Regions from separate parts of the Homo sapiens genome. Here regions 1, 2, 3, 4, 5 and 7 are each linked to region 6. The links come from fine-mapping of genetic effects on gene expression. A gene starts in region 6. Each other region holds a variant in brackets. All regions are shown on one strand. Distances are between the middles of the regions.

Region 1 (4,065 bases), 200 kb after region 6:
ATTTACCACGAGACCCCCCTTTTCTCACACACACATGCACACACACACTCTCTCCTGTTTGGCAGGGAGAATGCATGGTTTGCTACCTCCAAAGGAAACCTCTCTTCCCAATCTCTCAAATTCTGTACTTCAATCTTTTAAACTCTTGAGGTAGATGAGGAGTTAATGGTGGCAAAATTAGTTTCCAGCCATCTCTCCGCAAGTCTTGCACAGATGATTTAGATTCAGCATCTCTCTTTGAAATGAGGGGATGTTTTTGCACTCATTGTTTTGTTTCCCATCTGTGGGGCTGCGGAAAGAATCCCATTTTAGCATCCTGTGACAGGAGCACAGGCAGATAGGCATATATAGGCATACAGGCATATTACCCTCCTCACCAGTGTTTATCTTGGGCCTCAAGCTTGCTCTGTCTTCTTCCCATTCAGTGTAACTAGATTTCTGTCATATACCCCAGCTCCCTGACCCACAGGTTTCCTAATAGAAGGCTCAGTTGACTAGTGGTGTATGGTTAAGTTTTAAAAAGCCTGGACCAGGAACCAGGCAGCCTTGCTGTCAGTCTGACTGTGCTACTAAAGGGCCGTAGGACCCTGAGCGAGTCAGTTTCTCTCTGTGGGCTTATGTTTCTCCTCTCTAAAATAGAGAGATTGAACTTGATGGTCTTTCCAGTTCTGGGATGCTGAGGTGGCCTGGGGGGTTGTGCAAGCCAGAGCAGGACAGTTCAAGGACAGAGATGACGCCAGAATCCCTTTGGGCAGTGCCTGACATTTCCACTTCCATCAATAGGTTGATTTGTTTCAGGTGACAAGATTGTCACAGGATCTGTCTCCTGCCTTAGGAACACGTACTCCCCCAGTTCAGGATAGAAACAAAACAAAAGGGCAGGCTCCTGGGCCTGGGGGGCACCAGGGTGACCTCATGTTTAAGGAAGCTGTATGTCAGGAATCATCTTGTCCCACGATCCAAAATAGGCAGCAAATGGACAGGTTTCCAGGCTCCCCCTCCGCAAAAGATAAAAATACCATGGGTTCGGGGATGTTCTCAGTCATAAATCAATCAGCTAAGACTATTTCTGTCCTTATCCCTTGCCCAGAGTTCCTCCTACAACCTCTGTCCTGCCCTCCTGTCCCAGCCTCCCAGCCACCTAGCTCTGGAGTAAGGGGAGTCTCATCAGCTGCCCTGATGACAACTCAGTACCCTGGCCGTGCCAGCAAGAGAATCCTCAGCCTGCCTATAAATGAAACGGTGGGCATCCTGGTGCCTCCATCCACCTCCGTGAGCCTGGCTAGCAACTGTCCACTCTGACAGGCAGGTGACTCCCAATACACACCAGGTTTCCTGGCCTGTAAGGGAGCTGCCCGCTGGTTGTGGTGGGCACTTAGGAGTAAATGTCTCTGAGTAAGCCCTCAGCATGGTCAGGGGTAGGGCTTCTCCTTCATGTGGTTATAGGGGTTAAAGGACCTACCTCGTAAAACCACTGGGAGGATTAAATGAGACCCTGTAGGTAAAGCATTCACCTTGTCACCTGGCAAGTTGCAGATACTCTGAAAATAAGAATTGCCTTCCCCTTGCTAGCCATTCATCTGGAGCTCAGACTCCCACGGCTGACCCATGTCTTTGGAGAGCTCCTTTGAGACTTTTGTCATTCTAAAACCCTAAGTCAGCTTTGAATTCAGCTCTTGGGGAAGCCTCCGAGGACATCTGGTCTATGCAGAGATCCTACCTAAATCAGTACCTAATGGTTAACAAATGCGATGCTGCTGGGCCACCTGGACAATATTGCCCCTTGTTCAATCTTCTACTGCCCTCTGCAGGTTCCAGGCGATACCGCAGGCAGTGTTGACTGCATTCCTTGTGCAACACCAAAAAAGACCAAGACATCTCACTGTATAGACTGGAAGCACTTTAAGACAACAGGGCAAGGCAAGGTGTCTCAGACGGACGATGCCTCTGAATAGCACAGTGATTTCTAGTTCACAAAGCACTTTCTTGTTGGATTTTCATGACCACTCTACTCTCACCTTGGTACCTAAGCACACAAGGGAATTCTGTGTCACTGCTTCACCCCAAGAGCTTCACTAAAAACAAGTGACAGGTCTCAGGCCCTGTCCCAGAACATCCCAGAAAATCATCTGAAATGGACCTGGATCTCAGTGTAAACACTCGTTTAGTTTTTAAAGCTCTTCTACCTTGACCATGCTGTACAACAGCCAGCATATCTAGGATACTCTGGAGAGGGATTTTTGTAAGAAAGTGTGTGTGTGTGTGTGTGTGTGTGTTTTCAAGAAATGAAGGCTGGCCAAGATACTGAAGATACTAGCATTTGGTGTGATGATAATTAATAAGCATTTTTCACACGCCAACCAGCTGACAGTTTCATTTATTAGTGACATCAAGCACCAGTCCAACTATATCATTTCCACTATCCTCCCTCCATGGCCAGAACCACAGATTCTCTCTGGCAGAAGGTTGGATTTATACAGTGAAGGCATGTGACAGTGACACATTGTCCACCCAGCACCA[T/C]GTAGGGATTAAATCACCATTTGGAGCAATAAAAGGGATGTTTGTTCTTCCCTTGTTCTCTTTACCAACCGCAGAAACTTGAGGTGATCTCAGCAGAGTTCATTAGACCCAGGTATCATATGACAGTAAGAAAACCAAGCCTTAGATAGCTGCAGATCCTTTATGTAACTGGAGTTTTCAGGTCATATATTTATAGGCTTTTAAAGCAGAAGACGTGAGACAACCCTTTACTGCAACCCTTATGTTTGCAGTAAAATGGATCACAGGAAGGGGAATTGACAGTCCAAGATCACAAAGATAGAGACAGAAGAGACAGAGCTAGGATGAGAACCCAGGCTTCTTGGCTCTTCTACCTCTGGTTGGGCTTGATTTTGATAGCAGCATTTTTATTTCTTTTTTTTTCTTCAGAGACAAGATCTTGCTCAGTCGCTCAGGCAGGAGTGCAGTGGCGCAATCATAGCTCACTGCAGCCTCAACCTCCTGAGCTCAAATGATCTCTCCACCTCAGCCTTTCAAGTAGTTGGGACTACAGGCATGCACTATCAAGACCAACTAATTAAAAAAATTTTTTTTAAAGACAGGAGCTCTCTATGTTGCCCAGGCTGGTCTCAAACTGCTGGGCTCAAGCAATTCTCCTGCCTTAGCCTCCCAAAGTGCTGGGATTATAGGGGTGAGCCACCATGCCAGGACTGATAGCATCATTTCTAGGTGGAAATTACTTTGGCTTCAAATGTAAAGATTAAACATAATCTTTTTTGTAAATACTCAAAGAGTATTTGGAATACAAATATTCTCTTCAAAGAGGAAGGGAAAGAAATCTAGAACATTGTACGTGCTCAATAATTGAGTTGGTTGGATTTTTGTATTATAGAGTAATCTTGCTTTATGCAGCTTCACAAAATCAGATCCAATTAACCTTGAATTTGTTTCATTCTTTATTCTTTCCAATGATTCAAAGATGGTTAGAGGATTTAACCTTACCCCACTGCCTCATTGCAAAATTTGAGTATAGATTCAAGGTTATGCTTTGCTGTTCATTGGTTTGAAGGCCAGGCTTTCACAGGAAGGCACACGATTTAAAGTAACTTCGGTTTAAGCTTCTAGAGGTTTGTGGGAATCCTCTTCAAAGGACAGACACCATCAGAACTTGAGGTTATACAGGCTGTCCAGTAAGTGGGGAATAGCACAAACCCTTCCCGACCCTATTCCAGATACATGATTAAAACAGACAGAAAATGATCCTAATTGCATATTCACCATTTAGGCATAACAGTTTTGAATTTGCTTATCATTGTGTTTACAAATTACATTTTTGATCAAAATCTTCCATTGCATTCACTTGTCTTCCAAATCCCATCTTGACAAATCACAGGTCTGTCATTCTGTGACTTTAATAGATCCATGTTCTGTGGTATGTTCCTCCTGCTCCATGGAAGCCCAAAGGCAGCACAAGAAGACTCTGCTGAGGACTCTCTCTTTAGACCCTCACAGACCAGGGTTTGCAGTTTTCTGGGACACCAGTGACACACTAGGAAGGAATGATAG
Region 2 (4,065 bases), 72 kb before region 6:
GAAGGAGTAAGTATATTTTAAAACTACATAGCCAGGTCTTCTCCTGGGAATAACTTTCCCATTGTCTGTATTGATCTCCAGAATAAACAAAGATGAGAAGGGAAAGAGTGGTAAAAAAAACTCTTCGCACGTTTAAAGTGATTTGTCTCCTCCCTCCTTGCTGGCAGATGAAGCGCTCACACTTTCAGGCTGGCTGAGCTTCTCCTTGGGTGATGAAAAGTGGGGGAGATGGAGGAGTGGCCAGAAGCAGGCCCCAAACTGGTCTCTTCTCTCCAGATCAGCCCAGAAGACCTCCCAGCTCTGTTCACCCACAGAATATACAGCCCAGATATCCATCTTGGTCCTTTATTGTCTACTCATTGGTTTTATTATTTTAAATATTATGTGGATGCTTGAGGTCTCCAGAGCCCTGAGGGCAAAGGTGATGTCTGATGTTTCACACTCTTGCCTCAAGCCTCCCGCTTCCTCACTCCTGCTCTACTGAGGGCTGAGATGATGGTGGAAAAAGCACTCCTGTGGGTCTGTCCCAGTCCCTCCACTGATGGAACAGTGATGTGAACTTGGACAAGTCAGTAGCGCTCTCAGAGATCCATTTTCTGCATCAGAAAAACGGGGAGAATACCTTTCAGGAAAGTGGTAAGAATTAAGGCAAATTAAATGCTACAGGTACAGCACGCAGCTTAGTGCCTGGCAAAGATGAGCAGACAAGATCATGAGCAGATGGCATCATGCTGGGGAGGGGAGTCAGGGCCAGCAAGAGGCCAGGAGGAGGGCCTTGGAATGGGCAGATGCTGCTGCTGCACACCTTCCTGCCTGGTCAACTTGATGATGGTCCGGCAGGGCCTCAGATTTGCAGACTGTATTGAAAAAGTTATGTGTGACTTGAAGCACTATGGAAGGCATCACATTCAAATCGTGCTGGGGAGCCTCTGACCTTGAGATAGACCATAACTAACCCTCCTACAAATCCCTCCTGCCGGGTGTCTGAGGAGAATGAAGAGCCCAGCAGAAGTCAAGAGGCAGACCTGGGTTTGAGTTCCAGCTCAGAATATATTCATGCCTTGTGACTTACCTAAGTATCCCCCAGAGACCATCCAAAAACTTAACCCATGGGAAGACAGTAGGGCACAGTAACAAGAGTACAGGCCTTCGAGTCAGGATTCCAATCCCCGCCCCACCCTCTTCCTACCTGTGTGACCTAGAGCAAGTGGCTCAACTTCTCTGATTCTTACCTTACCTCGCCTACAGGGCTGATATGTGAGAGAGATGAGATCATAGCTGTAGGTGCCCAGAGGAGGAGGCATACATGACAGGGCCCTTTTTCATGGCCCTGTTGCCCCTTTCCATCCCATGGAGGTTACATTCTGAGTGTGCTTGCTGTTCCATGCTTTGCATCGGCTCCTCAGCTGAGCTGGTTGTAGGCCCCCCCAGAGGCCAGGGCATTACCATTAAGGGAGACCGATGAAGAATTCCTAGCAGCCTCCCAGCTGTAGAGCACCCAGGTGCCTGTCAGAAGCCAGAGGAGTGAGGCTGGGCCTCGACAGGGCCATTACTCACCCACACCACCGGAGACTCCAGCAGCTGCGAAAGGGTGCGGGGGCGGGGGGCGGGGGGGTGGTGTCCAGCCATCTTTAAGGGTCTGGGTTTGCTCGTGAAAAAGAAACAAGGGGCTTATTTATGTCACTCAGGCCCAGTGAGCAGGGAGGGGCCGTGCAGGGAAGCCTTTAATGAGCACTCTTCCCTCAGAAATGCTGACAGGAGTTGGACACGAAGTACATCTCGGCCAAAACATCATCATCCCCAGGATCCCAGTGGAAAGATAAACCTGACTGCAAATATTGGTTTCTGTGAAGAGCCGGAGCACAGAGCAGGCAGCCCCCAGGGCTCAGCTGCAGGTGCACAGAGATGCCC[G/A]CCCAGGCCAACACTGCCACCACTGAGAGCACCCCCCACCCCCCACCAAGGCCAGCCTGCTCCCACGGTGCCACACAATGCCAGCCTCCTGAGCTGGGCTGCCCTCCAGAAACAGAAAGGAGAAATCTAGTCACATAGAAAGCTGCCCAGGCTGTGGAAAATGCAATTTCCAGACCCAGCCAAGCTGGGAAAGGGGCAGGCTGCTGCACACCCACCTACCTCACCCCGACATTGCCCAGGGGCCTGGACATCAGCCTTTCCCTACCCTCTGTAACACCAGTGACACAGTGGGACCAGGACAGCCTTCCTCAGCCAAAAGTCTCCTTTTCCTTCCCCCAGCAGTCTTGGCATCATCATCCCTCAGTGACCATAGTATCTGCCCTGCCATTACCTCCCGCCAGCCCAGGGTCCTCTCTCCCCATCACCCAGCCTCCCTGGCCTTGGTCCCCTTATTTGTCACATAGGCAAGGGCAGGGGGCCAAACAGGAGATTCCCATAGTCAGTCTCAGTGCTCTGTGCTGCAGAGAGGAATGGCAGCAGGAACCTCTGAACTTCCAGCCATGCAGTGAGCCCAGGAGCAAGGGGTCCATGTCCCCACGGGGGCCAAAGAGAAGATGAGTGCCCCTCGTTACCCTAGAGAAGCCCTGAGAGTCTGGGAATGCCGTGCTGAGTGCAGAGGCACAGGGGTCACCGAGAGACTCAGGCTGTCTTCACGACATCCCCGGACTTTGCAGACTTTGAGCATCCTCTTCTGAGCCGGTTTTGTGCCGGCAGAGGGTGCACTCACTCAGGAAAGCAGGGTCTGCTCAGGACATTAGGTCTGCTGTAAAATAGGGTCCCTGGCTCTGCCCATGGTAGCTCCATGACTGAGGTGGCTTTCCATGCCTCAGTTTACCCAGTTTCAAAGACAGGAGAGCCTACCCCTCTAGCAGAGGGAGGACTTAAGAGTTGGAGCCAACTTGCACAGCAAAAATAAACCTCTGTCACTTCCATACAGCGCTCTGCTTCTACCACTATCAGCTCACTTAATTTTCATTAAAATGTTATAAAATGGGCATGTCTCACCCCATTTTCCAGACAAGGATTAAGGCTCAGAAGGGCTCAGGGACTTAAGTCACTCAGTGGCTAAGGCGAGTCAGGTAGTCTGGGCATGCACACCGTTACTCCTCCTGTGACCTACAGTCTTGGGGAGGAGCAGGCAGGAAGGCTGGGGACTTGGGCCCCTCATTCTGGAACCTGCTCTTCCTTCGTGTGGGCCTTGACTCTCTTTCTCTGTACCTGAAACAAAGCTCAGGAGCCACCCCTTCCTCCTGCCTCAAGACAGACTCTTATCCTTTCCCCAAGCCCTGCCCAGAAAGGGATTCCAAGTCCACTCCCAAAACTGGAAACTCTGGTCAGAACCCTGGAGCCCAGACCAGCAGACCCCTATGTTCCAGTTGCTTCTGAGAGAAGGCAGCTGTAGACTTAAAAAGGTCCATAATTGGCTGGGTGCAATGGTTCACATCTGTAATCCCAGCACTTTGGGAGGCCAAGGCAGGTGGATCACTTGGGGCCAGGAGTTTGAGACCAGCGTGGCCAACATGGCGAAACCCCGTCTCTACTAAAAATACAAAAATTAGCCACGTGGGGTGGTACACGCCTGTAATCCCAGCTATTCAGGAGGCTGAGGCACCAGAATAGCTTGAACCCAGCAGGCGAAGGTTGCAGTGAGCCCAGATTGCGCCACTGCACTCCAGAGATCACGCCACTCTACTCCAGCTGGGTGACAAAGCAAGACCCCGTCTCAAAAAAAAAAAAAAAAAAGAAAAGAAAAGAAAGGTCCATAACTAATAGCAAATGCATTTTGAATAGTGCAGAGCTACTCCTGTTCTACCTCCCCCTGCAAAGAAGCCACACTAGAGACAGTTCTGGGATAACCTTTCTGAACAGAGCAGCTCACCACTGCCCCGTGCAGACAGGGCAACAATGGGGCCCCTAGGTGTTTAAGATGAGGCTGGAGGACTAATAATAAAGCAGAAACAAAACAAATGTCCCTCAGCTGATGAATGGGTAAACAAAGCCAGCATATCCATACAATGGAATAATATTTGCTAATAAAAAGGAAGAAAGTACTGGCACGTGCTACAGCACAGATGAACCTTGAGAACATCATGG
Region 3 (4,065 bases), 26 kb after region 6:
CAATCAACATAAAATGATGTGTAAACCCGGACACAGTGGACTGCCATGAAAGGGCGATGTGTTAAAATGAAGAAGGTGATGTCATGACAAGCACAAGCAGATGGATGAAAGGAGCTGACAGCTGGTCACTATGGAGTCTTCGAAAGCAGAGCCCATTGTGCTTGTGGAGGGCTGGCCAGGGGAGGAAGGCTGTGTACATCTGGCAGCACAGATATTTCATCACTGTTCTGCAGGGGATCAGGCTTGTCTCACTCCTGGGTCCTTAACTCTGTTTAGCCATCTAACAATGTGTTTGCTTTTCCAGGTACCCAGGAATGGCCCTTCTTGGAGGGCAGACATAAATATCTGGTCATTTTAAAGGGGCATCCTTCATTGACGATTGATTGATACATTACAAGGACATGAACAGGACCAGTGGGGACCCAGTTTTCCAGAGGCTGGTCACTTCTGGGTGCCCTGCTCTGGACATCTGTGAACACCTGCGCCTTGAGCTGTGAAGTCCCCATCACAATATGGCCCCTCAGAGGCTCAATCAGATACTAGACTTCTTCTCTTCCCCACCTCCCCACTGTTTCTTAATAAGGGTGGGGTTATTTCTATACTCCCAATATGCTTTGTCTAAAAAAGCATCTGAGTGCATTTAACCTATTTTGTAGAAAGTTGCAAAGGCAAGAGGAGAGATGCTGAGCACATCCAAGAAATGACTGGAAATTGGCTACTGAGACCATTTGGCTGGGCAGGATGAGGATACAAATGTGAGATGGAGGGAAAACATTTCAAATATGAAACATGAGTGCAGTAAGCATCTGAGAATCCTGTTCTATGGCTGAGCTTTCTCCCCTGTATTATGAAGGTGGAGAGACTTAACTGATTTAGGAATAACTGGCCATGCCTAATTCCGTCTTCCTATCTCCTAGGAGGCAGCAGCCACAGAGAGCCCCTATTCTGCTCTGCCTCTCTGGGGGAATGCTCCTCCCTCTGCCCCAGGACCTCTTTCCAGGCTGGGCTGCATGGCTGATGGGGTTTGGAATTATCAAGCCCACATGCCCACTTGGTTAACAGACCTAATGCAATATCACTAACTTGGTTCTATCAGTAATAAAAATAGTATTTGAACTTTAGTTTTATTTCTCAACTTATTAAGTGTTCTTTACCACCACACACTCACAGGAAGAGATATGTGATTTATTGAGGACCCCAACAGGTTTTGTGGAAAAATCACACGGTTCGAAGCTAGGAGTCCCATGTTTGAGTTCTGACTCCATCACTTCCCAGTCTAGGAGCTTGGGCAAGTCATTTAGCTTAGCAGTTCTCCACAGGTGGTTTTTGGACCTGATATTCCAGGATCCTTTTGGGGGCCTGTGAGGTCAAAACCATTTTAGTAATAGTACTAAGCTGTTATTTTCCATTCTTGTTTGTTGGCATTTATGCTGAAGGTGTGCAAATCGAGGCAGTGGAACCACACCATACTAGTCATTGTGTTCTCTACCACCACTCACTTGCAGCAAAAAAAAAAAAAAAAAAGCCAATTTCATTTCAGAATGTCTTCAATGATGCAGTAAAAATGATTACTTTTATTAAATCTCAACCCCTGAATACATGTCTTTTCAATATTTTGTTGTGAGGAAATTACACATAAAGTGAGCAATTTTGTAACAGAGTGCCTCTGTTGAGAACCCTCCCAGGAACAGCTATCCTCAGCACCTAGGGGACAGATTTCCAGCAAGTTCTGCAGCATAGCACCACAGTGGCTTCCCTGCCATTCCATGAGCCACACCCCTGCCATCTGCAGTCAAGTCTGGATCAGCTCTAAGTAAAGGGCAGAGACCTCTTTCCTGGTCACTCTATCTCAGCTGTAGGGTAGTGGATGCCCCATATCTGCTATTGTATTGTTTAGTATCCCCCTTACATTTTACTATCTAATCCCTCAATTACTCCAATGCTCCGTGTAATTTTAAAGTCTTTATATTAAACTTCCTTGTTCAACTTCCTGTGTGGTTTCTCTCTTCTGACTGGACCAGGTTGGTAAGATGGTTTCCTCTACAAGGAGATCTACCATCTACCAATAAGATGGTTTCCTCTACAAGGAGCCTCCAGGC[C/T]GTCCCTGCCCTGTGTCCAGCAGTGCCCTGAATGTTCATTAAGATTCTGTGGTAGCAAAAAAGAGATTTTTAAAGCCCCTGACCAAGGGCCTGTTCTTGCATAGTGTGAACCTGGGTGGAGAACACCTTGTCTCATACACCGAAGACCCCATTTGCTTCTTGGGATGTATCTCTTGTGCCCATTTCTTCTCACAAGATGAATGGGGAAAAAAATGCCTTCCCAGCTGCGTGGGATAAAACCAAAGCTGAATAGTAGCTCTGAAATTGGCTAAGCTTCTTCTTTCTTCCCCTACTGCTCTCAGGTCCTTCCTGAGGTTGAATGGCTGGAGTGAGATAACTTGGCCGGCCTCGACACTGCAAGCTGCCCCTCTCCCCACCACACTCTCAACCTGGGCTTCATCTGGGTCTCTGATGGCATGAGGTGGGATGGTGCAGCCATGAGGATGGGGATTGATGGCAGACTTCATTGGAAAGAAACCTCCCAGGGCCTTCTGGGGTTCTAAGAAACCAGAGAAAGCCCAGGAAGAGTAGGTCATGAGGACCTGTCACTGCAACTAGAGTAGGTCACTTATTAATACATTCTCTGAACTTCTTCCCATTTCTACTTGGGCCAACATTTCTTTTGCTAAACTACCAGCTCGATTTCTCCAAAATGCCCTATGTCCTGTTACAACTACTTGTCTTACAACCACTTATTACTCTCCTGATGAGTTCTGGTGTAATGCTCTGTCCCTTTCCCATGCTGCTCCTCCTCTCTAGAGCATCCTCCTTTCCCTGGGTACGGCTAAGCTTTCAGGTCCAGCACCACATCCTCTGGGAACTCTTCCAGGACTCTGAGGTTGATCTGAGCACCCCAGGTGTATTCCTCACACCATGAACTGAGCAACCAGACTGCCGTCTCATTAAAGACAGGAACTGAATTTTCATCTCTATGCTAGGATCTAGCTCAGTGCCTCTGTGCCTATATTTTTTAAAGAAAAAAGTACACAAATAAAAAAATAAAGGACTACTTGTCTTATCTGTGCTTGAAGTTGTTCAATGCATGTCTGCTGTTACTGAAGGCTGGCTAAATGTCATTAATACTAATGAAGAAACCAAGGCACAAAATGTTTAGGCGACCTGCTTAAGTCACACAGCCAATAAGTGACTGAGGCTGGACTCTAACAGGTGGCTTCTCATGGATGACATTTGGAGGAGCTACAGGAGGGTGATGTTCTTGGAACATAGGTCAGGCTGGCCAGGAGGGCATGAGGGTCTGCCAGGTGGTTGCTAAAATTACTTCACTTTCTGTCCTTTTAGGACTAGGGAGGGAAATCCAGGGTCACTGGGAAGCTGTCCTTGGCATGTGGTCGTAGGCATTGCTCAGCGTTCTCTCTCAGGGATGGTCCACTGTGATGAGGGCTGGTGGGAAGGGGGACTAATAGGCCTTATCAGAGGAACCAGCAGGGACTCCCTCCCCCTGCACCCTCACACACCTATAGACACAACACTCACATCTCAGAAGCCAAGCCAGACAATTGGAAGTAAACAGCTCTACTGCCCTGAGCTCCAGCTCCCAGGTTCTGGCCCCAAGTGTCATGGGGGGAAGTGACCTTGCAATAATGGTATCCTCCATGTCTACTACCAACTAGCTGTTCTGGTGACCAAACAGATGGGCTCAGAGACCAAAGGGGCTGAGATCACATAGGTGATAGGTCAATTTAAAACATACAGCAAGAAGCAAGGGGAGAGGGACAGGGTGGGACAACACACTTAGAACATTGTAAGAGAGGACAGAAGGAAAACATATGTCACCCTGAGTCATGCCATGCTTACATGTCCTGAACTCCACCAGCACTTCCTGCTCATGGTGTGATTACAAATACCAGAGCTGAGGTCTGAGCAAGGGGCACAAAAGACAGATGGTGCCTGGGGCCCAATCCCATCAGAGAGACATGGGACAAGTACGACTGGCCACAGATGTAGC
Region 4 (4,065 bases), 32 kb before region 6:
ATTCACTTATTTATAACAGTATGGATTTACAGATTCCTATTTTATTCAATAGGTTGTAATCTAATACTCTGATTATTTGATATTTACTTTGATGCTCATATTGTTCTCAATTGGTCAGTGGAAAGTCCTTCAAGCCAGCTCCTGTGTCCTTTTGACACATCCCCATCTTTTCTTGAGCATTTCCTGACTTTCTGGCAAGACAAGGTCTTTCAGGTTCATTTTATACTTTTTCTGCCCTATCCCTTAAGTTAGCCACTTCTCTGAGGCCCCCTGGTAACTTGCAGTGTAGGGCACTATTTAGAAACCAAGATCTCTGTAATCCCAGCACTTTGGGAGGCCAAGGCAGCCAGACCACTTGAGGTCAGGAGTTCGAGACCAGCCTGGCCAACATGGTAAAACCCCATCTCTACTAAAAATACAAAAATTAGCCAGGTGTGGTGGCCCATGCCTGTAATCCCACCTATTTGGGAGGCTGAGGCAAAAGAATCGCTTGAACCTGGAGGCAGAGGTTACAGTGAGCCAAGATCATACCACTGTACTCCAGTCTGAGTGACAGAACAAGACCCTGTCTCAAAAAAAAAAGAAAAAGAAAAAAAGAAACCAAGGTCTGAGTACTCACCATGCACTCATTGCTACTGGAGTTCCACTGCTTTCGGACGAAGGAGTTAAGAAAAAAATGTATGTATATATGTACATACTGACACTTCTAATTCCAATCCAGCATGCTAGGACTTTTCTAGCCTTCCTTCTTTCCATGTTTAGAAATCCCCTTTCAAACAGTAAAAAACACGGTTCCTATTATCCTCTTTATATTTATTTACTTGCTCAATAAATTATCCTTTCTCTTAACCAATCTTCCAACCATTCTAGCCATGTCCCCTGCCCACCACCTCCACACCCACTTTTCTACCCTGCTTTCATAGAAGGAAAAGGAGGCAAGGGGAGGGGAGGGGTTATTCCCTATCTTTCGTGTCTAAAACTTCCCAAGGCTATAATCTTGGTATGAGCTGTTCTGGATAATTTTGCCCAACACCCAAATTCGTGCTCTTTCAACATTTAGATTTAAGTCTTCTTTTAGATCATGAAAGCCTTCCTAATATTTTAAATATGTTCCATTGTGTGTGTTTTCTGTGTGTCTATTTTTTATGTCTGTTATTTTTTGTTTTCTTTCAAGAACTAAAATTATGCTTCTGCTGGCTCTCCACTGCCTGTCTTCTATGTCAATCATTTTCTCTCTAATCTTTATTAATGCTTCCCTTATTTATGTTTCATTTATTCACCTTTCATCTATGTTCCACACTGCATTTTCCACAGTGTCTATTTTCCCTTGAGATTCTTCCAACTTCATCTTCATTTCTGAGACCAATTTGCCTTTTTTTCTTTTATTTCCTCCTTGAGTTCTGCCAGCTCACATTTCACCACCTCTTGCCATTTTGTCATCCTTTCCCAAGCATTTACCTCTGCAAGTTGGGTCTTTCTTCACAGAAATGATTGCTTTGTTGAGTTCTTTAAATTCACTGTGAAATACTTGATTAGACTTTTCATCTGCTCCCTGAAATTATTTTCCTGGGAATGTTCCTTATTTGGGGGTAATTTTCGTGGCTCTTGCTGACATTCTTCCCC[CT/C]AATATCATTGCTTCTAATCTACCAATGATCCTACTTTCTTTTTTATTACTTATTGTTGTATGAGATGGGCTTTCTTGGATCATTTCTTTGCAGGAAGTTCTGAGGATGGAAGGAGGGCCCAGGGTAGACTTTCATTACTGAAGTAAGCTTTCTTTGTGGAGGAGAGCTAATGACTAGAAAGAGGCACATGGAGATTTCTGGGCTGCTGAAAAGATTCTGTACCTTGATCTGAATAGTGGTTACACAAAAGTTTATCAAACTGAAAAATATTTGTGTGCTTTCCTGTATGTTATATCTCAACAAACATGTTAAGGAAGGAAAGAAGGAAGCCTCTTTTATTTGCTGCCAAAAACATTGTTTCTTGCAGTTAGGTGTCTTCTGGATGATCCTTTGTATAAATGCACCTCCTCTGCTTCTCTGAATCAAAGCAGGCCCAGGAGGTACGTTTCTTCAGTTTTGCTCACCCTAGTCCTTATTTGCGTTGATTACAAATAAGAGATGTTGCTTTGCCTCTTCAGGATGCCCCTTATATCCAGGATGTGTATTTTTTCTGGCACTCTTTGCCACCTGCTATTCCTGAGCCCACCAGGTACTCTCCTAAACCTCTACTTCCCCCTCATGGCCTCTCCCAAACCCTCCTGCTCAGGACAGCCCTTGCACACATTACACATTCCACAGATTGTATCTATCCTCTAATTCCACTGAAAATGGCATTTCGGAGTTTTCTATTGTTCTCTTTGCTGTTGTGTCCAGCAACAAGGAGACTGTAATGGTATCCAGGAGGAAGAGCAGAAGAGGTTGTCTTGTACAGCAGCCACATTATACAGGAAGTCCTATTTGCCTATTCCACTGATTCACCACTACATCTCAAACGAGTCACCTCTTGAGACTCAGTCTCTCTATTAGCAGAATGGGAAGGAAAAAAATGCTGTCCTTCTCATTAGCTTCTTCTTATCAAAGAACAGTAGGGAAGGCACAGACATGAGGCCAAGTCTGTTTGCCATTATGAAGGGTTTCCTAAACGTCAAGCAACATGGTGCTTTCCATGGTGCTGATGATTTCACCTCGGTCCTGTTTCTCCTTTAACTTTCCCCTAAAGCTTGAGGGCTGCTCTCCCATAGACCATCAGCCAAAAAAACAGCTGATTCTTTAGGACTAGGATCTTACCCCACACCTCAGACTCTCACCACCTCCCCAGCAACCCACACACTCACGCTGAAACACACAGCAGATTCTTCAAAATACCAATTAGCTAGCTGTCCTGTCTCATATCTCTGGCTGGCTGCAAAAGTAGCAGTAAGAACACGCCACTACTTGGCACCATCTGCCTGGCTGTGAGCAAACATAGGCTCCCCAGCCAGGCAGTGTAATTCAGGAAATACCAAGGCCAGACTCCTGCCTCTGACCCCACATGAACCCTGAAGTTTCAGGCTACAGATGGACAACATCAAATCACCAGGGCCCCAGGACTCCACCATCACTACATCAGTCACAAATATTGCCCTTACTAATAGAAGTGGCAGATGGAAACATAAATTCTTCAAAAGCAATTTGCTTGCCAAGGACTAAGGAACGTATGAATGAAGTGTGAACAGTAAGTTTTTTCCGAGTTAGGGAGGCTGGACACGTCACCCGCTCAATTACACAGGCGGGCTCTAGAAGACCTAACCCAGTTTAATTTTCCATCAGGCTGAAAACATCTCTAGCTGACTTAAAGGCAAACACAAGGGTTTGTTCTCTCTTCCCTATGCTACTCCTTCAAGGAAGGCCCAGATCTTCAAGAGCAAAATGCAAGAAAGGTAACACTGGTTGGAGCATTGGGCATTCGGTTTTTCCAAAAGAATGAGGATAAAAACAATCCTTTGATAAAATAATCCTTTGAAATCATATGCCCTTTTTCAGAAGACTCTGTAGCACACAAACAGTGTCCTTGGGGAATGAGGACTATATAAGCATTAATCATATGCATGCTCTGTGATGGCTGTCATGGCTGGAGGGTCTAGCAGGCACCCAGCATTCCTGTCGGCAGCTCCCTGCTCCCTACTGAGCTTTGGATTTTACAAAGGCAAGCACAGCACAGGTTGGAACAGGCAGACTGAAAAGAGCTTGGACTATGGGCATAGAAGTCAGGTTCTAAGTAAGTTCTGCCATTAACCAGCTGATACTCTTGAGAAAGTAACTTCCTCTCCCTAGTCTCAACATCAACCACGGAGAGGGCAAGTAGACCTGATCAACTCAAAGGCTTCTAACCTCAACAAGTGAGGATTCTGGTTAACCTCTTGCTCAGCACAGCTGTTATCTCATTCCCAGATTCCAACCCCTAACACCATAAAGGGAGGCCTTGTGCTTGGTGAATCAGCTGCCACTTCACCCAGGCCTGGAATGCAGCTGTTAGTTACTGTGGCCAAATGCAGCCATTACTTCAAAACCAACAGCAGTG
Region 5 (4,065 bases), 130 kb before region 6:
GGTCTCTGGTTACTTTTCCCACCTATAAAATATAGGGGTTACATAGCAGAGGCATCCTTAACTATTTGAGGAGACAGGGCCCTATTTTTCAGTGTAATAGAAGCCATGGTCTTTTCTTCCCCAGAAATAGATGCAAAATTCTGCTCACAGGATCTAGGATCCAGTGCCACCCTGGGGCCACAGGAGGCACCTGGCTGTTAAGAGGAGAGGGCGCCTCTCTGAAAGATGAGCTCACACTGGCAGACCTGTCTGGCAGCAAATAAATCTATGATACTCTCCCTTCTCCCTCCCAGCTACCCCTCAGGGGGCCAAAGCTGGCTCCTCAGCTCTGCCAGCCTCTGCCCACCCCATGCCGAGCACAGTCAGGAGGCATGCTGTGCAGAGGGACTCCATAATTGGTCCCTGCTCTGTTTGTACTTCAAACAACAACCTTGAGATGTGTTCTCTGGACGTGCCGCCTGGCTCTGGCTGCCATAACGCTCAGCCGGGAAACACATCTCCAGAGATCCACAGCACTGGGGAAAAGCTAGGCATTCTTCAGCTGATGCCCAGGAGCTGAAGGTGTTTGAAACGGGCAGGGGCAAAGAAGGGTGGGGAACGCCAGTCTGCTCAGGAAATTCTCTACTCCTTGGTGACAGTTTCCAGTACAGAAGATATCTCCTCATTCTCTTTGCAGAGCCGACCAACAGATAAGCGCTGGGGATTTATGTCTTTAGACCTGTATTTAATTTTTCACACTGCTGCTGGAATGGCTCTTCTAAGACACGGTTGGATCCCACTCACAGAATAAAGGCCAAGTTCTTTGCCGTGGTCTGCAAGTACTGCCCTGGACTTTTGGTCTGGCTTAACCCTGGTTCCCACACACTGGCATCCTTCCATTAAACTGCCACCACCATGACTTTAAGGAAGCAAGCAAATCTGGTCCCTGCAACCTAATAGTGTCCCCTCTTCTTATGGCAGCACCTATAGTTACCTGTTTATTGGGTCTCTTCCACAAAACAGCGTGTGTCCTGGAGGCAGGAGTGTGGCTTTTCTCTCTGAGAGGTTGGTAATAAAAACTGCTCACAGCCTCAGTGCAGCTCTCCCTTCCCACCTCACTCCACCAAGGCCCTCAGGCTACAGACAAGGGGACAGACACAGAACTCACAGCCCTCAAACTATGCCTTGTGGAGGAAATGAACAGGCTCAGACATGGTGAAAAAAGGGTTAAGAATGAACTTGCCCTGAATCAGGGTGTGTAGGTCAAGCAAGATGCAAAGGAACTGCATGGCAATGATGCAAACATGCCCCTGTGTGGGTGGGGCCAAAACCAAAACCAAACAAACCAACAAAATGGAACACAGTATGAAAAAAAATCCAAAAACAACACCACCCACACACACAAAACAAAAACCCCAGTCTAAATAAAAACAACTAAACAAATGGAAGGAAATTACCCAAACGTGCTTCATGCTATGGAATAGCTTAAAAGCATGAATTTAATAAAATAAGAGCTAAAGGATTAGATGATTAAATAAAGCAATGGAATAAAGAATGATAAAACTGAGAACCACAAAACACTTTTGCAGAACCAATAAATACATGTTGAAACTCCAAGAAGCAGTGCAGGCACAGCAGGAAATCTAATTACTGATACCAACTAAAGGGTTCCAGTCCTGGCTCTGACACTCTTGAGCAGTGGGACCTTGGGCAAGTCACTGGGACTCAGAGGAGAAAGATTTAAATTATTAAAGCAACTACAGGAGAGAATAAAATGTATAGAAAGAGCAAAGGTGATCCAACATCAGAAAACTGGTGAACCTGAAGCAGAGAAACAGATGGAACACACAAAACAGTCTTCATCTTTTTAAATAAAAACCTCCTGAGATGAATAAAGATCTGAGTCTGCACATCAAAATTGCACACCACATTCCATAAAAAATTGATACAAAGGGATTGACACGAAGATGTTTCCTGGTTTAGGTATCGAACTTCCAAATGCAAGAAAGAAATCATCAAGCACCCAGGCAGAA[C/A]CAACAAGTCACCTACAGAAGGGGAAATGTTCAGCTGACCTCAAACTTCCCCGCGGCAGCTTTCCATGTCAGCGGATAATGAAGCAACACCCACGGGGCTGAGTCCAAATGTGACCAGAAGCATTTTAACCTGCTGAGGTGCCGTTCAAGTACGGACAGCAGGAGTGTGATATTCCCACATCCAAGCTCAGGGATGACAGCACCTATGAGCCCATTTTGAAGCAGCCACTAGAATCCACTATGGCAGACTTCTAATTTGGACCCCAGTCTGTCTGGCCCATGCTCTTTCTGTTAATGCCATTTCTGCTTTATATATGAATTTTGTTCCCACATGCAGTCAATGAAGAGGTGGTTCAAAATAAAAAACCCAAGAATGGAGCAGAAGAACCAGTAGAGCACTGAATCTATGTAATTACAAAACTAAAAGTAAACAGCTATGGGAATGGTCATGAAACACTACAAAAGTGTTATAGACTCTGACAATCTAAAAATAACGATTGTGCAGACAATGGCTTTAAGTTTCTGTCCCTGTAAGATTTCATGAAAGCTGCACTTAAGGAATGAAAACAGATGAACCTAAATTTTCTCAAGACCTATGCTCTGACACTGGCTCCACTGCTTACTGTTTATGTGATTTGGAGGAAGCTGCTTAACCTGTTTGAACCTCAGTTCCATCACCTGTAAAATGGGGAGAATAATGCCTATTTCACAGGGTTTTAAGAATTAAATGAAAATACTGTAGGTAAAAAGCAGTGGCTTGCACATAGTAAATGTCAATTAAGAGGAGAAGCTGACTAAAGATGAGAATAAAAGTGAACATCTCCCTTCCCCCTTCCTCCCCAAAAAAGGCAAGGGGGTACCCATCAGCTCTGGATCTGGATAGCTAGTGAGGCTCTGGGCTCTCCAGTAGGTTGCTGTATCAATTCACAATGTTGCAACTCATTGCAGGGAGAAGCCCCTCCCACAGAGAGGCATTGGGCCCCCAGTTTCCAACCACACAGAGAGCAAACTCTTTTCCCCAGGACTGAGGCAGAGAAACTGAAGACTGAAGGAAAAGCAAGCCTTCACCTCCTGGCAGGGGCATGGTGAGAAGCAGTGTGGATCCAGCTGCTTGCCAGTGGATGCCCCCTTCTGAAGGCCTGAACAGGTCCCCATATGACTAGCCCTGAGGAACGCAGCATGCTGGGACACACGATACATGTAGGTCAGCAAGTCAGATTCTAGACCCAATCTATCTGCCACCCACTAGCAGTGTGACCTTGAGCAAGTCACTTGAACTCTCCCTATTTCCTCATCGTAGAATAAGAGGGTAGGAGTCAATGATCCCTAAAGCACCCCTGCGTTTACCATGTATATAGAGTGCAAAGTTCTGTGTGGGTTGTACCCTTACACCAGTCTTTCCTGCCATAATTAATTCAACAAGAACCCCAGAGAAAGGAAGAGGAAGGAGAAGGAAACATGAGACAGAAGTGTAAATTAGCAGGTGAGGGAATGCATAAAGGAGGGAGGGAAGGGCTAAAGTTCTGTGGCCTCTGAAGAATCAACCACTCGCTAGCTTTAAAGAGGCAGGAGCTTGGCCGGGCACCGTGGCTCATGCCTGTAATCCCAGCACTTTGGGAGGCTGAGGTGGGTGGATCACCTGAGGTCAGGAGTTTGAGACCAGCCTGACCAACTTGGTGAAACCTCATCTCTACTAAAAATACAAAAACGTTAGCTGGGCATAGTGGTGCACTCCTGTAATCCCAGCTACTTGGGAGGCTGAGGCAGGAGAATCGCTTGAACCTGGGAGGCTGAGGTTGCAGTGAGCCAAGAGCGTACCATTGCACTCCAGCCTGGGTGACAAGAGCTAACATCCATCTCAAAGGAAAAAAAAAAAAAAAAAAAGAGATGGGAACTCACTCTCTGCCAGTGAGAGTTGAGAGTTAGTGACTACAGCCTCTGCAGGGCACCCCAAATCCACTCCTGACAGGAGAATTGCAGAAAGAAGGCAACTCTGCCTTATAAAAAGGGTCCGGAAAATCTGCCTCCATCTATACTAAAATCGATGGGCTAA
Region 6 (4,065 bases):
TACTATGCACCTGGCACACAGTAGGCCCTCTGTACTGTACTTAACTGGTGAGACGCCACCTCCCGCCCACATCTTCCTGTTTTTCAGTCTCCCATTTCCGACCATAAGCTCCTCCAAGGCTTTTGCCCAGACCCCTAGACGACTGTTCTGGACCCAGTTTATAAAGACTGCCTGGCTGGCCAGGAAATCCCCCAGAGGCCTCCTTCCGTGTCCCCGGGCCAAATCTGTGAAGAGAAAACGGAAGGCTACCATGTCACGAAAAACTATGATCAAATAAATTATTATGCCTTTTCTCCTATTGATCTGCCTTTTGTCAACTGATTTTCAGTGAACCTTCGGAGAGCCATGGGGAAGTTTTCCCTTTCCCCCTACAGGGCTCTGAATCTGAAGGTAAGAGTGAGCCTATAGGGGGAACCTTCTGGCTCCCTCACAGGAACTGACTGAGCAGGAGTTGGAAAAGCCACTTGGATTCCCATTTCCTCAACTCCCCGCCAATACCAAGGCGTCTGTTTTTACAGGCTCTTTCGTGGTGTTCTGGGCACATTCAACTTCCAATGCAGCTGAGAGGGTCGGGAACAGTTAGAGAACAGGGGTGGCAGCCGCCCGGGAGGCTGCAAGGCGCTCGCCCGCAACGCACAGGCGCGCGCGGCGCACCCGGCCTCCGGCCTCCCCAGGTCGGGCCTGGCAGCTGCGGGAAGGAGGTCAGCGCAGCCGCCACACTTCGCCCGGGCGCTGGCCCGACCCGACCGCCGGCGACTCTCTGGCAGCGCCCGGAGACCGCCAGCCCCTGGGCCGCCCGTCCGCAGAGCCCCCTCCGCCCCGGGACCCTCGCGCGCAGCTCAAGTTGGGAGCCCCGCTCCGCAGGCGAGCGCGCGCCCACCACCCACACCCACTGCCACTCATGCACACCGCGGGTCCGGAGATGCCCCCGAGCGTTTTAAAATCCAGAAACATCACATGGTAGCCACATCCGGCGGCTGTTACCTGCTCGCAGCACCCAGACCCTCGCCCTGGTTTCCCGGGAGCCCGCAAACCCGGCACGCGGGCTGCGCGCCCTCCCGCAAGCCACCGCTCAGCGCCAGCGCGCCGGCAAGCCGCCTACCTTAGGGGTCTGCACTTCAGGTCCCGTCGGCACCTCCAACTTCCTCTTGGTTACCCAGAAGAACAGCAGCACCGTGATCCAGAGCACCCCGAAGACTGGCAGAACCAGCCGACGAGTCAGGCGCCGCATGGTCCCCTTTGCCGCTTCCTCTCCGCGGCGCTACGTCCCGGGGGCACCCCCCGGCGGTCAGGGTTGGCGGGGCAGGAGTCCTGGCGAGCGCCTCGCTCTGGGGAGCTCTAGACCCAGGATCCGGTTGGAGGGGCGGCAGGATCCTGCAAGGCGCCCTTCCCGCTTCGAAGAGAAGCGAGCCTGGGTGGGGGGTGCAGGGCGACCCGAAACGTGGCAGGGAAGGACCGAGGGCAGCCAAGCTGGACGCCCGCTCCAGCGGGAGAAGCGCGGTGGCTGCCGAGATGTTCCCCACGCCGCCACCGCGGCTGCCGCCGCCGCCGCCGCCGCCTTGCCCGCTGCCGCCGATAGGGAAACTGACTCGAGCAGCGAGAGGGAGGAATCCGAGGCTGTGCCAAGCACCCCGGGAGGAGCACGAGGGCGGAGGGAGTGAGCGGGGAGGGCGGGCCCGACAGACAGGCCGACTCGGAGCGAGCCCAGGTGGGAGTGAGCGGGGCTCTGAGAGGGGGCGCTACCGCCGCCCGCCGACCGAAACGCTCGGTGCTGTTGCGGGGCCGCCAGCGCCAAGCCCTGGGCGCAGCTCCCAGACCATCGTGGGTTGGGGCAAGGCGGGGCGGGGCGGGAGCGGTGCACTCGGGATGCCCGCCACCCCCAGCTGCCAGCTGGGACCCAAGGGCCGGCCCTCGCCAGGCGGCGCTGTGCCTGGGAGGACTTTCCCGCTCATCGCGGGGGCTGCACGTGGCGCTGAAGCCGGGGTCCCACCCCCAATGTGCTCGTCCTACCACAGCCAAGGCTGGGATTCCAGGGCGCCGGCAGGGCTGCTGCCCCAAACCCGCGGTTCACTTGCCTGGCTACTGAGGGCCAAGGCCGCGGTCAGCCAACTCCCCAGGGTGTTTCTATGCCTGCCTGCAGGTGCCTGGTAACTTTTTCTGCTTAACGGAAGGAAAGCTGAGCTGGTCTAATTTTAACTTTAAAGATATCCTTTAAAAAATTAAGGCGCAATTATCTCCCATAAAGGTTTTCTCTCCCTGTAAGCATCAGGGCTTTGTGCTTGCAAGAAAAGAGGTCCAAAGTTGGAACAACCACTTGGGATTCTTGGAAAGTGACCCTGGGCAGGAGGATACTGGGTGCAGAGGGTGATCTTTCAAAAGCCCCTTTTCCCAAGGGCCTTTGGGAATTGTATCCCCCTCCCACTTGCAGATTAAAACCGCTTGGATCTAGAAGCAAAGCAAATTCTAACTCCAATTCCCATGTAGGCTCAAGTAGGCTGGAATCACGGCCAGATCACTGACCAGAGAGTACTGACCTAGCTGTCACACTCACTGTGTGAGTCTTGGGTAAGTCATTTACCTTCTCCCAGTCTTCGATTCCTCATCTGTAAAATGGAGGGAAAATACCTCCTCTGACAAGCAAATGAGTAGTGGTGAAAGCTGAATGCAAGGTGCTGGTGTTATCTGACCACTCAAAGTGGGGAAACCTTGCTCTGTCTGGGGAGCAGAGGCAGCGGGAACCATGCCATTTTTGTTGGAGGGTTGCTTGCTTCATCGAGTTTCTTGGGGAGGTGAGAACGATGCACCCACTGTGGCAGCCACCATTCTCCCTGCCCCTCTCTCCCCATAAAGCTCAGTGTAGGGCAAGCTCCCATACCTCCGCACAGGTGAGACAGCTGTAAATCAGGGCTCTGGAATTCCTTCTTCAATAAGATGTCTCCCCAAAGACATGTACTGAGAAATGGAGGCGTCTACTCAAAGCCTCCTGTTTTTGGTACCTTATCTTTCAGCCACAGGGAAGTCCTGCCTCAACCTCAGAGAGTTCTTGACTGGACTGTAGATAAGATGTTTGGGGTTGGGAACCGCAGTTGAAATTAAACAGCCCAGAAAAGGTGAGCACTGTTGCCAGCCCTTTCAAGATCTACCTGCGCTCTTAGACCATCACACAGAACCCCAGGGTTGATCTAGCATTTGCCTTTATCAGAACTCTGAACACTGAAAGGTGGGAGTAGGCTCCCCAGCCAATGCTTTGTCCCAGCAAAGGCCCAGGTAGATGATCATCATGGGAGGGGTAGGGGGAGCAGCAAGAGAACTCACCTCTGCAGCATCCCAAGCACCTTGGACCTCTTTCAGGAGCCTCACCCGGGACCTGCAGTTTCGGGCCTGCAAAGCGTTCTGCTGCAGGCTCTGCAGGGGACCCCCAGGCAAGCTGCTGAGCTGCTGTTGGCTCCAGGCAGAAGCTGCAGCACAGGAGTCCATTGCTCAGCGCTTTGTAATGCCGCTTCTGAGTAACAGATGGCAGACAGTTACACAAGAACACCGCCAAGCTTTTGAGATGGTGCAGCACCACCACGCTGCTCACCACACTGCTGAGATGCTGAGGTGCCTCATTCTGACTGTTTGGCATATGGGGAAACTGAGGCCCTGGGGTGAAGGCAGCTCCGTGCAGGGACTGCAATGTCTCAGAGAGTGGGAATTTCCTTCCAGGAATGATTTTCTTCTCAAATCATTATTTTGTCCTCTACTCAAGTGAGGAAGATTTCCTGGGCCTATGGAAGCTGTCAAGGGAATCCAGTTTTGCTAGGTGTCATTAGCTGATCCATCCAGAGATCATATCAGATATCAGTTTGGGTTGTCAAACCAGTAAATATCATTAGGACTGAAGTAGATTTCAAGTGGGACTTCAAACATCTGGAAGTGAAGTGAGTGTCCATGCGGGGCCTAGTTCTGTAGGTCTCTCCAGGAACCCAGTCTATCCAGGGGTCCCCCATGCTCAGGAATATATTTGAAACGCTTTAATAACCAGCTTTAAGCCTGGGCAACATAGCGAGAGCTTGTCTCTAAACA
Region 7 (4,065 bases), 130 kb before region 6:
TTCATTTTAATATTTCCTCCATGTATTATCACCTTCTTCCTCTCACTGGAATTCTGTCTTGGGAGTTATTTAACTGATGTGCAGAAATCTAAATTTAATTTATTATGCTCTAACTCACTTTAGAAGCCAAATTACCCTGCACTGGAGAAGGATCAAGTCAATATCCCACTTGGCTTTCTATTTATCTTCTGTGGGGGTTTCTCTCCTTCTCTTTAGTATTCATTTTTATCTCAGGTACTGGTAATAAATTTAAATTTTCCTCAGAATTAAGCAATTGCTCCTTCAATGTTGTAGTTTAATGGTTAGTATTAATTATATGAAAGGCACTCCTTAAATAGTTTGATAGATAGAATGGACATATAATAGAGGAAGAAAGGGCAATTTCTCGCACCAAATGAGGTAGCACATAATTCAGCAGGGATGAGTTTACTTTTCTGTTCTACCTCCTCCTGTCCCTTTTCCCCACTTTCCTCCTCACCCTCCTCCCTCAACAGCCAGGTGCCTAGAAAATAAGTCTGCTAAGAGTTGCTCTGCTGTGGCATCTCTGAGCCCCCGGAGGGTCTGCCAGCCAGGCCAAGCCTGGATCCCTCTTTAGTGTGGGAGTCTTTTTCCATTTGATTTCTCTCTCATTTAGTCTCTGACAACAAAAGCAACCACTGCCCATCTCTCTCCTCCCCACCACTTCGCCCATAAACACTCTCCCCACCCATGTCTCAATTGCGCTCCACATGCATTACAACTTTGGGGGAAGCTTCCAGCTTTCTGGAAGAAGAAAAGTTCCAATAATTATTATAATTGCCTAAAAATTCCAACAGTGAAACATAATATGATTAACTGAATGGACAGAAGCCCGGTTTTTGTTTCTGGAATAGAAAAAGAAACTCACATATTTGGACCTTCTATGGAGATTAATTTACTTACAAATTAGCACGAGAAGGAGGTGCCAGGGAAGTCTAAGTCAGCATGACTGGGGAAGCGGGCCTGGCTCCCAGGCACGTGCCAGGAAGCGTGAGCTCTAATGCTGATGTATCTGCTTCCTTCTTATCAACACCCTGTAAATTCCACCACCAAAGACTGAACCCAAAACTCCCTTATGTCGATGGGCATCCTGGATTGCTAGTCACTTGTCTGAAGAACACATCCCAATTGCCGGTGGACATGAGGACTGAGAGAGCTGGTCCTACCCACACGCTTTATTTCTGCATCCCCTTCTCTTTGTGTTCAGAGACCAGAGCGGCAAGCTGGTCACTGGAACAGGAGAAGAGTCTGTGTCCTCCAGCTCTGGTACCCAGGGAGCAGGTGATCTAGGAGGCAGGGAGCCAGGTATCCACAGGGGACTCAGGAAAAAAAGGATTTGGTGGACTGGGTGGAAGCACAGGAGGGTGAATTTGCCTATAACCAGGAGGCCAATACTGGAAGAGAACAGGCACTGAGAACAGGAACCAGTACCCAGGAGAGTCCAAGGGGAGGGATTGGATGTAGGTAGAGCAAAGCTGGAAGTGACTCAGAGAGGGCAGCTTCAGCTGGATGGAGCTGGATAGAGCTGGATGCTGAAACATGCTGTCTCTGGTGTGCACAGTTGAGCCATCTTGGATGCAGGGTCAACTCATCAGACAGAGGGCAGGTCTGCAAGGGTGAGGCTGCAGCCATCTCTCAGAGACAGCAATATCAGAGAAAGGAGGCCAAATCCTCCCAGGGTGGCCCCACAATGTGGCCAGAGCAGCCTCCAACAGGACAGGGAGGGGCCGAGTCAGATGCCCACCCCACTGAAAACCACTAGGAGGAAAATAACCCTAAAAATAAGATTTGGATTTATCAGGGACAGAGCAGCTCTCCCTCCAAAAGCCAGGCTTCTCTCCCCTCCTTAGCTCACTGCAAAGGACTGGAACATATCTTAAGGCACCATCAGAAAGCTCTCTAGCCATAAGAAATAGCTACAGGGAAAAGCAATTTTCAAGAGGCCCTCTGAACCAAGGTATCTAGCAGGGGTCATGAATGAGCAGACCTGGAGTCACTGAGAAATGTGAGCGAGAGTGGATGGCTTGTAGGTGCCGCACAATACCTGCCTAGTTACACTGCTTTAAACCTGCTCTTGGGCAAAACAAAACATGCCCATGGGCTGACATTGGCCTGCTGGCCACCAAATTGTGACCCCTAGGACACTAAGGGAATACAAGGAAAAGGGTAAAGAACGGAAAAGAAGGGAAGAATCAAACAATGGAAAAGTGATCATAGTAAACATTATGCATTTGTGATTTTTCTCCTTCAAGGGATCCTTTGTTGTTTTCAACCCAATTTTAGCTGGACAGAAATGCAGCCCCAAGAGCTTCTGTGTTGTGTGTGTGGGGGTGGGGAGTGGAGATGGGCTAAAAAGGGAAGCGCAGCCCCAGGGATGACTCCTCTAATTCCAGAAAGCTG[G/A]GTCCTGAGCTTGGCTCAGCTAAACATATCCTTTCTGGTCAGTTTCAGAACCTCGTGGTCAGTTTCCTCCTCCTCCCAAGGACAATACTAATCTTCACCCTCACCCAGCTTCATAGCCCGAATTAGGCTTCAGAAGTGAGATGAGACATGAAAAATTGCTTGGTAAAACATAATGCATACACAACATATTATCATTACAACATAGCTGTGGTTACTATTATTTCTTTTGGTGACTGAATGCTAATGGAGGGAAAACGCAATTTACAGTCAGTCAATTTAAGTTTAGCTGCTTCTCCCTTCCCTGTGGCAGAAATGGGGTCTCTGACAGCATCCACAGATGACCGGGTGCCTCACCTCACTGTCCGTCTGTGAGAATTGGTCATTATCAATGTGAATGCTTCCTGGGACTCAGCAGGTGTTTTCTACCCAAAGCTCCATCTCACACGAGTTTGAGCACAGTGCCATGCAAATGATAAGACAAGAAAACTATTTTAAGAAGCGTAATACATAAGGTTATTATCAGCTTAGAAGGCTAGAAATTGAGCTTTGTGCTAACTTGCTTTTTATGCACGTGGAGAGTGGGGGCTGGAGCCAGCACAGAAGCTGTGCAGGGTGATTCTGGAGAGAGACTTGGGTGAGATTAGAAGCCTGGACCTGCCTGAGACCCCATACTCCGAGGAACCTGGACTTCAGAGCTTCCTGCTTGACTTCTGGTCCCTTCTCCTCGTCTGAACTTAGTCCCGAAGGGACTTCTCCATGCCTCCCAGGACTTTGGCTCCATGGGCTGGAATGGCCGGTCCAACAGTCACACTCACGAGGAATGTGTTTAGCATGGTTTGCAGCTTCCTCAAATCTCCCTCTAGGTTCTTGCCAGGCAAAGATAACCTTGAGAGAAATAAAGATGGGAAGCTGTGGGAAGCCAGGCGAAAGAACTGGCTTTAAAAAGTGACTACTTCTCACACTAGATACAATCACCCAGAATAATGACAACGACAACTACTGCAACTAATAGTGGTGTAGCGTTTACTACACACCAGGCTCTATCCTAAGAATGTCCCTCGTTCTATACTCAGAACAAACCCAAGGCAGGTGCTTCTATTAATCCCATTTTACTGAAGAGGAAACCGAGTTTCATGGTGCTAACGTGACTTGGCCAAGGTCACACAGCAAGTCAGTGGAGGTGCTGGGATGAAACCCAGGCACGCAGATTCCATGCACAACCTTGCAAAGTCCCTGCCATGATAGGGGATCATTCATAGAGTGAGGCTTCCAAAACCAGTGCCTGTCTGGAGATAGACCTGGGAAGGATGAAGGAGGAGGCATGGCAGGAAGCACAGTTGTACATTTTCTGCCAAGGTTATTCTGGAACCCCCTTCCTTAATCCACGTGCCCAAAGGTGCTAAACTGGAATATGGCTAGGAAGACAGTTTCAGAGTCAAGTGCCCCTAAGCCCTGCCACTCAATCCCCAAAGGTGACATTAGCAAGAAGCTTCCAGCTTTCAGCTGAGCAGAATTTGTTCCCCTCTCTTCTACGCCTGCTAGGGGGAGGATAGATCTCCCCAGATAGTATGTACAGCAAGGGCCCAGAGCTTAGCACATTTTCTGTCTTCTCTGTAAATAAGGTGACATCAAGATACCCTCTAGCTC

Direction of the effects. Positions count from the first base shown, and alleles are read on the strand shown. Sizes are in standard deviations (SD) of each study's normalised expression. Not every link is listed here.
For the expression in spinal cord of the gene that starts at base 1,585 in region 6, A is the low allele of the variant in region 2 and G is the other (moderate effect, 0.41 SD a copy in GTEx).
For the expression in subcutaneous fat of the gene that starts at base 1,585 in region 6, A is the high allele of the variant in region 7 and G is the other (moderate effect, 0.61 SD a copy in GTEx).

The links.
Region 1: its variant is fine-mapped to the expression of GALNT14 in fibroblasts (GTEx, PIP above 0.99).
Region 2: its variant is fine-mapped to the expression of GALNT14 in spinal cord (GTEx, PIP above 0.99).
Region 3: its variant is fine-mapped to the expression of GALNT14 in whole blood (TOPMed, PIP above 0.99).
Region 4: its variant is fine-mapped to the expression of GALNT14 in whole blood (TOPMed, PIP above 0.99).
Region 5: its variant is fine-mapped to the expression of GALNT14 in whole blood (TOPMed, PIP above 0.99).
Region 7: its variant is fine-mapped to the expression of GALNT14 in subcutaneous fat (GTEx, PIP above 0.99). The same link has a PIP of 0.9 or more in macrophages.

The regions. Positions count from the first base shown.
Region 1 is chr2:31,331,961-31,336,025 of GRCh38, forward strand. XDH (xanthine dehydrogenase) reads right to left here. Exons shown (of 36, transcript NM_000379.4): 36 at 2,361-4,048. The coding sequence ends at 3,998. Among named protein-coding and RNA genes, the nearest start is that of XDH, 81 kb to the right of the region's middle. The variant T/C (reference allele first, on the strand shown) is at 2,521.
Region 2 is chr2:31,064,812-31,068,876 of GRCh38, forward strand. All of the region lies in intron 1 of GALNT14 (polypeptide N-acetylgalactosaminyltransferase 14), which reads right to left. Among named protein-coding and RNA genes, the nearest start is that of GALNT14, 72 kb to the right of the region's middle. The variant G/A (reference allele first, on the strand shown) is at 1,912.
Region 3 is chr2:31,163,215-31,167,279 of GRCh38, forward strand. No RefSeq gene overlaps it. Among named protein-coding and RNA genes, the nearest start is that of GALNT14, 27 kb to the left of the region's middle. The variant C/T (reference allele first, on the strand shown) is at 2,100.
Region 4 is chr2:31,105,153-31,109,217 of GRCh38, forward strand. The region is part of intron 1 of GALNT14 (polypeptide N-acetylgalactosaminyltransferase 14); the gene reads right to left. Among named protein-coding and RNA genes, the nearest start is that of GALNT14, 31 kb to the right of the region's middle. RefSeq lists an enhancer at 2,405-2,906. The variant CT/C (reference allele first, on the strand shown) is at 1,624.
Region 5 is chr2:31,011,421-31,015,485 of GRCh38, forward strand. The region is part of intron 1 of GALNT14 (polypeptide N-acetylgalactosaminyltransferase 14); the gene reads right to left. Among named protein-coding and RNA genes, the nearest start is that of GALNT14, 120 kb to the right of the region's middle. The variant C/A (reference allele first, on the strand shown) is at 2,013.
Region 6 is chr2:31,136,856-31,140,920 of GRCh38, forward strand. GALNT14 (polypeptide N-acetylgalactosaminyltransferase 14) reads right to left here and starts at 1,585. Exons shown (of 15, transcript NM_024572.4): 1 at 1,103-1,585. The coding sequence starts at 1,231.
Region 7 is chr2:31,002,930-31,006,994 of GRCh38, forward strand. The region is part of intron 1 of GALNT14 (polypeptide N-acetylgalactosaminyltransferase 14); the gene reads right to left. Among named protein-coding and RNA genes, the nearest start is that of GALNT14, 130 kb to the right of the region's middle. The variant G/A (reference allele first, on the strand shown) is at 2,419.